4 separate regions of the Homo sapiens genome follow, and all the other regions are linked to region 1. The links come from fine-mapping of genetic effects on gene expression. A gene starts in region 1. Each other region holds a variant in brackets. All regions are shown on one strand. Distances are from middle to middle. Region 1 holds the start of BAIAP2-DT (BAIAP2 divergent transcript). Region 2 overlaps CHMP6 (charged multivesicular body protein 6). Region 3 overlaps LOC124904077 (translation initiation factor IF-2-like). Region 4 overlaps BAIAP2 (BAR/IMD domain containing adaptor protein 2).

The links. PIP is the estimated chance that this variant, and not a neighbour inherited with it, causes the effect.
Region 2: its variant is fine-mapped to the expression of BAIAP2-DT in whole blood (TOPMed, PIP above 0.99).
Region 3: its variant is fine-mapped to the expression of BAIAP2-DT in whole blood (INTERVAL, PIP above 0.99).
Region 4: its variant is fine-mapped to the expression of BAIAP2-DT in whole blood (TOPMed, PIP 0.94).

What each region holds. Positions count from the first base shown.
Region 1 is chr17:81,033,019-81,035,770 of GRCh38, forward strand. BAIAP2-DT (BAIAP2 divergent transcript) reads right to left here and starts at 1,701. Exons shown (of 2, transcript NR_026857.1): 1 at 1,547-1,701; 2 at 1-380. BAIAP2 (BAR/IMD domain containing adaptor protein 2) reads left to right here and starts at 2,133. Exons shown (of 14, transcript NM_001144888.2): 1 at 2,133-2,290. The coding sequence starts at 2,237. RefSeq lists a silencer at 1,769-2,078 and an enhancer at 1,950-2,752.
Region 2 is chr17:80,991,898-80,994,397 of GRCh38, forward strand. It overlaps CHMP6 (charged multivesicular body protein 6), which reads left to right. Exons shown (of 8, transcript NM_024591.5): 1 at 1-84. The coding sequence starts at 22. Among named protein-coding and RNA genes, the nearest start is that of CHMP6, 1.3 kb to the left of the region's middle. RefSeq lists silencers at 1-166, 297-446, 457-646. The variant C/T (reference allele first, on the strand shown) is at 993.
Region 3 is chr17:81,005,092-81,007,843 of GRCh38, forward strand. LOC124904077 (translation initiation factor IF-2-like) reads left to right here. Exons shown (of 1, transcript XM_047437254.1): 1 at 1-2,752. Among named protein-coding and RNA genes, the nearest start is that of CHMP6, 15 kb to the left of the region's middle. The variant T/C (reference allele first, on the strand shown) is at 1,202.
Region 4 is chr17:81,072,504-81,075,003 of GRCh38, forward strand. The region is part of intron 3 of BAIAP2 (BAR/IMD domain containing adaptor protein 2); the gene reads left to right. Among named protein-coding and RNA genes, the nearest start is that of BAIAP2, 39 kb to the left of the region's middle. The variant A/G (reference allele first, on the strand shown) is at 975.

The sequences.
Region 1 (2,752 bases):
ACGGGAGTAGCGCAACGATGTGCAGGCCAGCTCAGGAAGTAACGCTGGGAGCTTCTAGAAGGTGGAGCGGGATCCAGGACCGTGGGAGCTTTTCCGGAGAAGCCTACCTCTCCTGTGTTGCAGCTGATGGGAGCAGCAGGGCCTGGAGAAGAACTGTCCCCAGGCTGACTCCCCTCTTGGAGTGAGGAGGCCTCCCGTGTTTGCCTGCCAGCCTCCATCTGTCATCTTGGTTCCAGCCATTCAACTTTCCTCCAGGCGAGCAGAGCTGCTCTACCCCCACCTGCTCCGTGTTGGCCCCAGACCCAACTCAGGCCAGTGGACGTCTGTCCTAGGGCTGCGTGTGAGATCGGTGGGTGCAGGGAACACAGCAGGAAGCTGGCCTAGAAGAAGGGGGTCAGGGTCAGTGGAGATGCTCCTACCTTCAGGTAAATGCCCTCATTTGTTAGGGCCAGTTTGAGCGAGCTTTCTGTCATTTACCACCAAAAGAATCCTAGAAAATAAATACACAGGGATCTACCCCCAAACACTGGAGACAATAAAGAAAAAGGAAGCAGCCAGGGCCAGTAGCTGGAAGGAAATTCAGCCGGAGGAGAGGAGGCGCGGGGCTGTGGTGGGAGGGAGGCAATGCTTCCTGAATCTTACTTCCCTGGTCTTTCCATCGGCCTGAGCCCGTGCCAGTCTGGGGATCTGCCGGCCAGCCAGCACAACTGCGTCTCCCCCAGGGGCCTGACTCGTTGAAGGAATGAATGAATGAATGATTTTGCAGGGATGGGAGGCTGGGAGACTGAGAGGTTTCATTAAACGGAAACGCTCAGATCTGGTGTTTCACAACGTAAAACAAATAATTCCTCTATGTTAGCCTAATTTATGTAAATATTTCTCCACGGGAATTGTACCGGGAGACCTGTGTGCCAACTCGGCCAGCTTCCCCGGCAGAATCTCCCCTTGGGAGGACCCTTAAGCAGGACCCTTCCTAAAAATTGGAGGCAGCTCTGACTCCTCCATTCCTCCTACAAGGTTCCCCCACCCCCTAGGGCTTTCCACCGCATGAGAGTCCTCCGGGCCCCTCGTTTCCTACTGCCCTCGACCCTTCCTTCCCGAGACCTCTCTCTCTCAGTAAACTGCCTCCAACGAGAATCTTCTGACGGCAGGAGGGTCCTCCCCGTCCCTAAGGGTCGCCCTGTCCCCAGGCCTTCCAGCAGGACACTCCCCTGTCCCCTCTCCAGATCCTCCTTCCCAGGGCCCTCCTCCAAGATCCTCTTCCCCAACCCTCCTCTCCCAGGGTCCTCCCCTCTCCAGAATCCCGGCCCCAAGCCCCCAAGCGCTGTCTGCCTGTCTGGGGTCCTCCCCAGAGTTCACCTTCTGCAGGATCCTCCCTCCAAGTCCTCTCCTCACGATGCTCCCCCGAAATCCTCCTTCTCCAAGTCGTCCCCCACTCCAGGGCCGAGCTCTCTCCAGGGTCCTCCTGCAGCACCCCCTCCCCCAGGGTTCTCCTCTCTGCCCCGAGGGGCCGGCCGGGGGGTCGCCGCCCGCCCGGCGGGCTTACCTGCGAAGCGGCGGGGTCGGGGCCTCTCCCACCTGTAAGCCCGGCCCGCGGCGTCCTGCGTCCGAGCCGCTCCCCGCCCCGCAGCGCCAGGCCGCGACCCGGCGGGCCGCCCGCCCCGAAGTGCCACTTCGCGAAGTGCCGCCTCCACGCGCGCTGCCGCCGGCGCCCCCCGCTCTCCTCCCCGCACCTTCTGCTCCTTCTTCCTGCGCCACCCCGCCCCCGCCTCCCCGCCCCCAGCCCGGCTGTTGCCCGGGCCCCCTCAGGCTGCTCCCAGGGCCCCAGCCCGCGCCGCGCCTCCCCTCTCCTCCCCCAGGATCGACGCCGCCGCAGACCAATCGCTGCCTGGAGTCGGCCACTAGGCCCCACCTCCGATCCCGCCCCCCTCCCCCTTCTCCGGAACCCACCAATGGAAAGGGCGGTGCGGGGGCGGGGCCTGGCGGTTGCCTAGCAGCGGCAGCGCCGGGCGGGGGCGGGTGGTCGGGGGCGGTGATGCGGGCGCAACGGGGGCGGGACGCAGGGGCGGGGACTGCCGCGGGGCGGGGCCTGAGGCGGCTATAAAGGTGGCCGCCGCCGGACGCCGGGCTCTGTGGTTCGGGTCCGCTTTCGTCTCCGTCCTGCTGCCGTTACCGCCGCTGCTGCCGCCGCTTGCGTCCCCCGCTCCGGTCTGTGGTGCAGCCGGGACCCAGGACCATGTCTCTGTCTCGCTCAGAGGAGATGCACCGGCTCACGGAAAATGTCTATAAGGTGAGCGCCCCCCGGCGCCGAGCTGAGCCCGCTCCGTGTGCGCCTGGGTCGCGCGCCGCCCGCGCGCCCGAGCCCGACCAGGGCGGCCCCGGGGCCGCGCGCCGGGCCAGGAGGCTGGGACTTTGGGGGTCTTCCCGGCGCGGCCACCCGGGACCCGGGCTGCTGGGGTGGTGAGCCCGGCGCCGGCCGCTCACAGGTGGCCACCCCCGCCCGGGCCCCCCCATCCCATGCGCGCCGCGGCCCGGTCAGTCCCCAGCCCCAGGCCCGGGGAGCACTCCCCGCTCCGACGGCCCTGCTCGGCCCCCGCGCGCTCGCCTTGGCGTCGGCGGGAACGGAGCCGCGCGCCGGGCCCCGGAAGCCCTCGGACCGGTCGGGGTCGTAGCACACCCGGGCAGGGCCGGGGCGGCGGGGGCGGCGGGCCCAGGGGTTGCGGCGGCCAGGACGGCATGGGGGCTGTCTGAA
Region 2 (2,500 bases), 41 kb before region 1:
GGGCCAGGGGCGGGCGCCGCCATGGGTAACCTGTTCGGCCGCAAGAAGCAGAGCCGCGTCACGGAGCAGGACAAGGCCATCCTGGTGAGGGCCCGGGCCCGGGGTCAGGGCTGGGGCCGGGACAGGCGACGGGGCCGGGGCGGGCGGCGGGGCCGGAAGAGCCCCGCGCCCTCGGCCCCCCGCGTTCGGATGGGGAAACTGAGGCGCAGCGCGCAGCCGGGCCCCTCGGTCTCTCCGCCCTGCGTCCCTCCTCGCCCGCGGGGCCTCGGGCCGGGGTCTCCTGCGCGGCGCCGTGGCTGCCGTCTTCCCCGGGGCCCGCGCGTCCGCCTCTGCGAGCCCCGCCGGGGTGGGCGCGGCTGGTGACTGCGGGATTCGACGCCGGCGTTCGGGGCTCGGCCACAGCCTGGCGGCCCGTCCGTGGGGTCCGCGCGGCGCTGGGCTTTCCCTGGCTCTGGGCCCGCGGGAGCAGGTCCCGGCTCTCCCGGAGTCGCTGCCCCCGCCCCCGTCCCGCGGCTCATTTGCCTCCTGGTGCCCTGGGCCGGAGCCCCGGCGGTGCTGCCGGCTTCGCGAGGCAGCGCGGGGCATCCCCTCTCCCTCACCCCATCCAGGCCAGGACTGGAAGGAAGTCTGCCCTGGTCCGAGGAGCGGCCGACAGGTGCGCCGAACGCCTGCCGGGGTCCTGCCGGGGTCCTGCCGGGCTTCCGCAGCGCCTGGGTACGGGACCACCGTGTTTGGCGCGTTTGTTTGCGGCGACTCCAGACTGACCCCCCGGGGCACAGCCGGGCCGGTGGTGGTGCCTTTTCCCATGTGAAAGTTAGCTTCTGTAGGAGGAGGAATCGCCTGGCATGTCAGGGACAGGGCGGGTTAAGAATAGTCCATTTTTGTAACGAGATAAACGTGTCACGAAAGAGACCCCGAAATGAAAGCAGGGCTAGCTTTTTCGGATGCTTTCTTTTCTAAATTTTGTGCAACAGAAATAGGTTAATTTTATA[C/T]TAAAAGAGAAGCGAATGTAAATGAAAGAGGGAATCTTACGTTGGCATCTGAGTCCATAAGCTGTGAAAAGAAACAACGGGCACATTTGTCCCTAGAGAAGATGGGCACAGCGCTGGGCACCGTCCCGAGCTGCCTGCAAGACAGCTGGACCCAGCCTCCATCGTCCACCTTCCACCTACCCTGCCAGCCCCAAGGCACTCCCTCCCCTCTCTTTAAGGACTCAGCTCCGGTTTCTCTTCAAGCACAGCTTTCCACTTGCCAAGGGTCACTGTGGGCTCTCGGCTGTGCAGACCCGTGTTGCGGGCTGCCGTAGGTCTCCCTGGGATTTTGGGTGCTTGGGAACAGCATCCTTAGCACACACTAGCACAAATGATTGCTTTTTTTTTTCTGTTTTTCTAGGATAACAGGTGTTCCCCACGTGGCCTGTGACCCTCCACTGAGACCTTGTTTTACAGGGGGGCAGCCTGGCCACACCTGCCTGCCTTTGGCCCCTGGGTCTCCCCAGCAGTGGGGCTGGGCAGGGGGCACCTTTCACTGTAGCAACGAGAGGACCCACAGGCCTTGGCACGGCGAGGGGGAGACTCCGTGGGTGGAGGGAACCGGGAATGAGCCCTCTCAGGTAGAGGGAGCACTGGCTTCCCATGCGGAGTCTTAAAGAGGCACACAGGCCCTGACTGAGCTAATTCTCCTCAGCCTCCTGCCTTAAGGCCATAATCCCTGTGCCTGCACGGGCTCAGCATTGTCTGAAGTGATGACGTTTGGAAAACTTAAGGACCTGATAGAGCAGGACTGGCTGAAGTTCCTCAGTGGCCGAGTGCCCTCTCTGGGACGGCACACAGATGAGAGGCGGTCAGCGGGGCCGAGTGGGTGTCCCTGCAGCCGGATGGTTGGCAAAGGGGCAGGGAAGCCACAGGCATCTCATGCGGCTGAAGCGCAAGGAGAGAAGCCGGGGGGATGTCTGAGCCCTGTCCTGGCCGTGTGGCTGGTGGCACTTGGGTACTCGCCACCTGCATGTTCTTGAGTCGGAACTTTTTTTTTTTGAGATGGAGTCTCACTCTGTCACCCAGGCTGGAACACAGTGGCATACTCTCGGCTCACTGCAAGCTCTGCCTCCCGGGTTCACGCTGTTCTCCTGCCTCAGCCTCCCAGGTAGCTGGGACTACAGGCACCGCCACCACACCCGGCTAATATTTTTATGTATTTTTAGTAGAGACGGGGTTTCACCATGTTAGCCAGGATGGTCTCGATCTCCTGACCTCGTGCTCCGCCCGCCTCGGCCTCCCAAAGTGCTGGGATTACAGGCGTGAGCCACTGCGCCCAGCCGAGTCCAAACCTTTGAGGTCCTGGCAGCTGCTCCCTGACCTGAGCCTAGAGTGCTTGTACCGCTGGCAGGCAGCCTCGAGGGTGGACCCACAGCAATGCCACGGTGGTCTTCCCCATCCCTGTGATGGGCTGTGGAGTCCGGGTGACCCTCTGGTGGGGCCGCCTCTTGTGTGGCAGGATGTGG
Region 3 (2,752 bases), 28 kb before region 1:
CTATAATCCCAGCTGCTCAGGAGGCTGAGGCAGGAGGATCACTCGAGCTCAGGAGTTTGAGGCTGCAGAGTTGATCATGCCACTGGACTCCATCCTGGGCGACAGAGCAAGACTCTGTCTTTTAAAAAAAAAAACGGGGCTGGGCGCGGTGGCTCACGCCCGTAATCCCAACACTTTGGGAGGCCGAGGCAGGCGAATCACGAGGTCAGGATTTCGAGGCCAGCCTGGCCAACATGGTGAAACCCCGTCTCTACTAAAAATACAAAAATTAGCTGGGCATGGTGGCGGGCGCCTGTAATCCCAGCTACTAGGGAGGCTGAGCCAAGAGAATGGCTTGAATCCGGGAGGCGGAGGCAGAGGTTGCAGTGAGCCGAGATCGTGCCACTGCACTCCAGACTGCAGCCCTGGTGACAGTGCGAGACTCTGTCTCCAAAAAAAAAAAAAAAACAAACAAAAAACAATAAATAACAAGGTCGGCTGAGGTGGCTCACGTCTGTAATCCTAGCACTTTGGGAGGCCGAGGCGGGTGGATTACCTGAGATCAGGAGTTTGAGACCAGCCTGACCAGCATGGAGAAACCCCGTTTCTACTAAAAATACAAAATTAGCCAGGCGTGGTGGCGCATGCCTGTAGTCCCAGCTACTCGGGAGGCTGAGGCAGGAGAATCGCTTGAACCTGGGAGGCAGAGGTTGCAGTGAGCCGAGATCATGCCATTGCACTTGCAGCCTGGGTGACAGAGCAAGACTCTGTCTCAAAAAAAAAAAAAAAAAAAGACTCAAAAAAAAACAAAAATCAGCCAGGCGTGGTGGTGTACACCTGTAGTCCCAGCTACTCTGGAGGCTGAGGCAGGAGAATCGCTTGAACCCATGAGGCAGAGGTTGCAGTGAGCCGAGATTGCGCCACTGCACTCCAGCCTGGCAACAGAGCAAGACTCCGTCTCATATAAAGAAATAAAACAAAAATAAACAAATTTTAAAAACAAACACATTCCTATACAGGTTTCTGTGTGGACAGCGTCTGCTCTTGGGTCTGCACCTGGGAGTGGAATTGCTGGGTTGTGTGGTAACTGGATGTTCACCCATAGGATGAACGACCACACTCTTTTGCACAGTGGCCGATGGTTCTGGTCTCTCTACAGCCTCACCAACTCTTATATTCTTTTTGATTACAGCCACTCTAGCAGGCATGAGGTGGTACGTCA[T/C]TGTGGCTTTGACCTGCATTTCTCTGGTGTCTAATGGTGTTGAGCATTTTTTCGTGGGTGTTACTGACCATTTGTATATCTTAGAGAAATGTCTATTCAGATAATTTGCCTATTTTTAATTGGGTTCGTTGTCTTTTTATTGAGTTGTAATACTTTATTCGGGATACTAGACCCTTATTAGACACATGATTTGCAAATATTTTCACCCATTCTTTGGGATGTCTTGTTAACCTTTTTGATGGTGTCCCTTGAAGCACAAAAGTTTTTAATTTTGATGAAATCTAATTTATTTTTGTTGTTGTTCCTTGTGCTTTTGGTGTCATAGCTAAGGAACCCCTGCTTAATCCAAGATCATGAAGATTTGTGTCTATGATTTCTTAACAGTTTTATAGTTTATTTATATTTATATAAATATGTTTTTGAGACAGGGTCTCACTCTGTTGGCGAGGCTGGTCTTGAACTCCTGACCTCAGGTGATCTGCCTGGCTCAGCCTCCCAAAGTGCTGGGATTGCAGCCGTGAGCCACCGCGCCCGGCTTGACTTCTTCCTTTTATATGTGGGTATTTTTCTGTCCCAGCGTCATTTGTTAAAAAGACAGTCCTTTCTCCGTGTAATTGTTTTGGCACCGTGTGGAAACCCGCTGCCTGTAGCCAGGAGCTTCTTTCCAGCCCTCAGTTCTGTCCCATTGCTCTGTGTGTCTATTCTTACGTCCTCATGGCAGCCTTGTAGTAAGCTTTGAAATTGGGAAGTGTGAGTTCTCCAACTTTGTTCTTCTTTTTCAAGATTGTTTTGGCTATTCTGGGACCCTCAAATTTCCATGTGAATTTTTAGGATAAGCTTTTCAGTTTCTGCGGAGGAGCCAAGTGAGATGTTGATAGGAGTTGCGTAGAATCTGTGGATGTGTTTGGAGAGTGCCGCCGTCTCCGCTACATTAAGTCCAGATCCGTGGATTGAGGGTGCCTTTCCATTTATTTTGGTCTTCTTTACTTTCTTTCAACCAAGTTTTGTAGTTTTCAGAGTATAAATTTTATACTTGTTTTGTTCAGCCTATTACTGTTTTATTTTTGGTGCTATTGTAAATGAAATCTTCTTAATTTCAATTTCAGATTATTCACTTAAATATACAGAAATACAGCTGATTTTGTATATTGAGCTTGTCTCCTGCAATGTTGCTGAACTTGTTTATTAGGGTTTTTTTAAGTGAAATCCTTAGGACTTTTTATATACAAGATGAGGTCACTTGTAAAGAGAGATAGTTTACCTCTTAATTTCCAACCTGGATGCCTTTAATTTCATTTCCTTCTCTAAGTGCCTGGTTAAAGCTTCAGTACAATGTTGATTAGAAGTGGGTATCTTAGGCTGGGCGCGGTGGCTAACACCTGTAATCCCAGCACTTTGGGAGGCCGAGGCGGGAGGATCACGAGGTCAGGAGATCGAGACCATCCTGGCTAACAAGGTGAAACCCCGTCTCTACTAAAAATACAAAAATTAGCCGGGCGTGGTGGCGGGCACCTGTAGTCCCAGCTACTCGGGAGGCTGAGGCAGAAGAAT
Region 4 (2,500 bases), 39 kb after region 1:
ACTTGGGCCACAGCCTCACAGCCGTCTCCACGTCCCCACCCGAACCTGGCATTTCCTGAATTCCTGGCCCCTGTCCGAGAAGGAGGCTAACCCTCCTGGGAGAGCTCTGGCAGGTGCTGACCCAAGTCCGTGGGGTCTTCAACCTTTGCAGACACCTGCGCCCAGAGGCCACGCCTCCCACTCTGAGCACAGGCGGGCGGACGCTGTCTGGCAGGCTCTGCCTTTCTTTCATTTTTCCTGACCTCTTCGCCCAGCGTCCTCTGCTTGGAGGTGGGTGTATGAGAAGGGGCCATTGGTGTCAGAGTGGGGCTGTCTGCTGAGCAGGTGAACACACCCCCAGTCCTTGCTCTGGGGCCGGGCTGTCCCGTGGGCCTCACGGACCTCATTGTCTGTGGTCATGAGCCTGCATCTTACTGATTTAATCCCGGGTGCCGGGTACAAACATGCACGCTTCCCTGATGAGAAAATGGCATCTGGCCTGGAGCCCCTTCCCACAGCCCTGGGTATTGGGTGCCTGTCACCTCCAGGATGACCCCCAGCCAGCAGACAGGTAGCAGGTGGAGGGTACCTGCTCTGGGGCCCTGGTGGCCCCAGTGGGTTGAAGCTCTCTTCGTAGGTGGCGTGGGGCCTTCTGTCCCCATGACCCTCCAGCGGCCCCTCCCCATGCCAGGGCTCAGCACCCCTGCTCCTCAGAGATCGAAGCCTCCTTCTCGGACCTTCCCCACCACTGTGGTCCCAGCTTCCTGTGCAGTCTCTTGGTTACCCAGGAGTTCAGAACTTTTACCACCTGGGGTGCCTTTCAGATACTCGGACCTCTTGGTTTGTAGGAGTACCAGGCCGGGGTGGGGAGGTGGAGGCTGTGCTGCTCCCCTCACCCTGGGCTCAGCCAGGGCCGCCAGCCTTCTTCCTGGGAGCAGTCACCAAGCTGGTCTCGGGCCGTGCTTTGGTAGAAATGATCTTTTAACTGACTAAGC[A/G]GAGTGTTAACTGAAATCATCATGAAATGCTGTTTATGCTCCATTTGGGATTCGGAGTCAAGCATTTGGGGACCCTCGGGCAGGGTCTGAGCTGCTGTTTGCCCTCGCAGATGAGGACGACGATCTGCACAGATCTGCCTCCAACCCTGGGCTGAGAGCATCCGAGGCCCAGGCTCTTCCCTCCCCCAGTCTTTTTCACTGTCTCTGAGATTCACGCTCTCTCTCAGGTTCTTGTCACTCGCAGACTATAAGAACACGTTGTATTTTCTGGAGTAAAAAAAGGCACAAATCTTTAAAATGTCACTGTTGTGAAAGCCGAAGTGTGAGGGGCTCTTCTAGGTTAAAGGACTAAAGATGCCCAGCGCCCCAGAGGAAGGGTGAGAGTCCTCTGGGAGCTGGCAGGCGCCAGTTCCTTGTCGCTCACGGTTAAGCCCGTGTATCACTTATTTGTCTCAAGTGCTTATGGAGCAGTCTTCCAATAGGTGGAATGCTGATTTGTTTTCCTAAAATGAGAGAGACTAAAGCCACGTGCCAACGCAACACAGCGGGACCCTTGATGAGAACCTGGATCAGGGAGGAGCTTGTCAATGGCATCGTCGGGCCATTCAGGAGCATGGTGTGTGCTGTTGATGAGAGGAGGATGCGTCTGTGGTAACCTTCCTGTGTGTCACAATGGAGGCGTGATGAGGCAGAGAAGGTCCTTGCTCTTAGGACACAGCTGCAGTATTGGGGGCAGGGGCAGCATCACATTGTCTGATGTCTGCAGTTGAGTCTCAAGGGGCTGAAAAAAGTGCCTGTGTGTCTGTGTGCATGCATGGATACGTGTGAGTGCCGGTGTGTGTGCATGCACGGATACGTGTGAGTGTGCGTGCACTGGTACATGTGTCACTGTGTGTGCGTGCACGGATACGTGAGTGCTGGTGTGCGTGCATGGATGCGTGTGAGTACGTGTGTGTATGCACAAATACATGTGAGTGCCAGTGTGTGTGCATGCACGGATACATGTGAATGCCTGTGTCTGTGCGTGCATGGATGCGTACGAGTTGCCTGTGTGTGTGCACGTGCACAGATGTGTGAGTGCCTGTTCGTGTGCGTGCATGGATGTGTGAGTGCCTGTGTGTGCGTGCACGGATGCGTGAGTGCCTGTGTGCGTGCACGGATGCGTTGAGTGCCTCTGTGTCTGCGTGCACGGATGCGTATGAGTGCCTGTGTGTGTGCATGCACGGATGCGTGTCTGTGCGTCTGTGTGCGTGCACAGATGCGTGTGAGTGCCTGTGTGTGTGCACGGATGCATAAGTGCCTGTGTGTCTGTGTGCATGTACGGATGCGTGTGAGTGCATGTGGGTGTACCTATACATCACAGAAAGAGTGGTGAAGCGATTGTGGCAAAGCACACCGCCAGGGAACCTCGGCGAAGTGAATGGGTGTTTGCTCTGCTATCCCTGCAACTTCTCTCCAGGTTGGAAAGGTTGGGCTGGGAAGAGAATAATGTAGTTCTGTTTTCTAAACCACAGGGAAGAATGGGC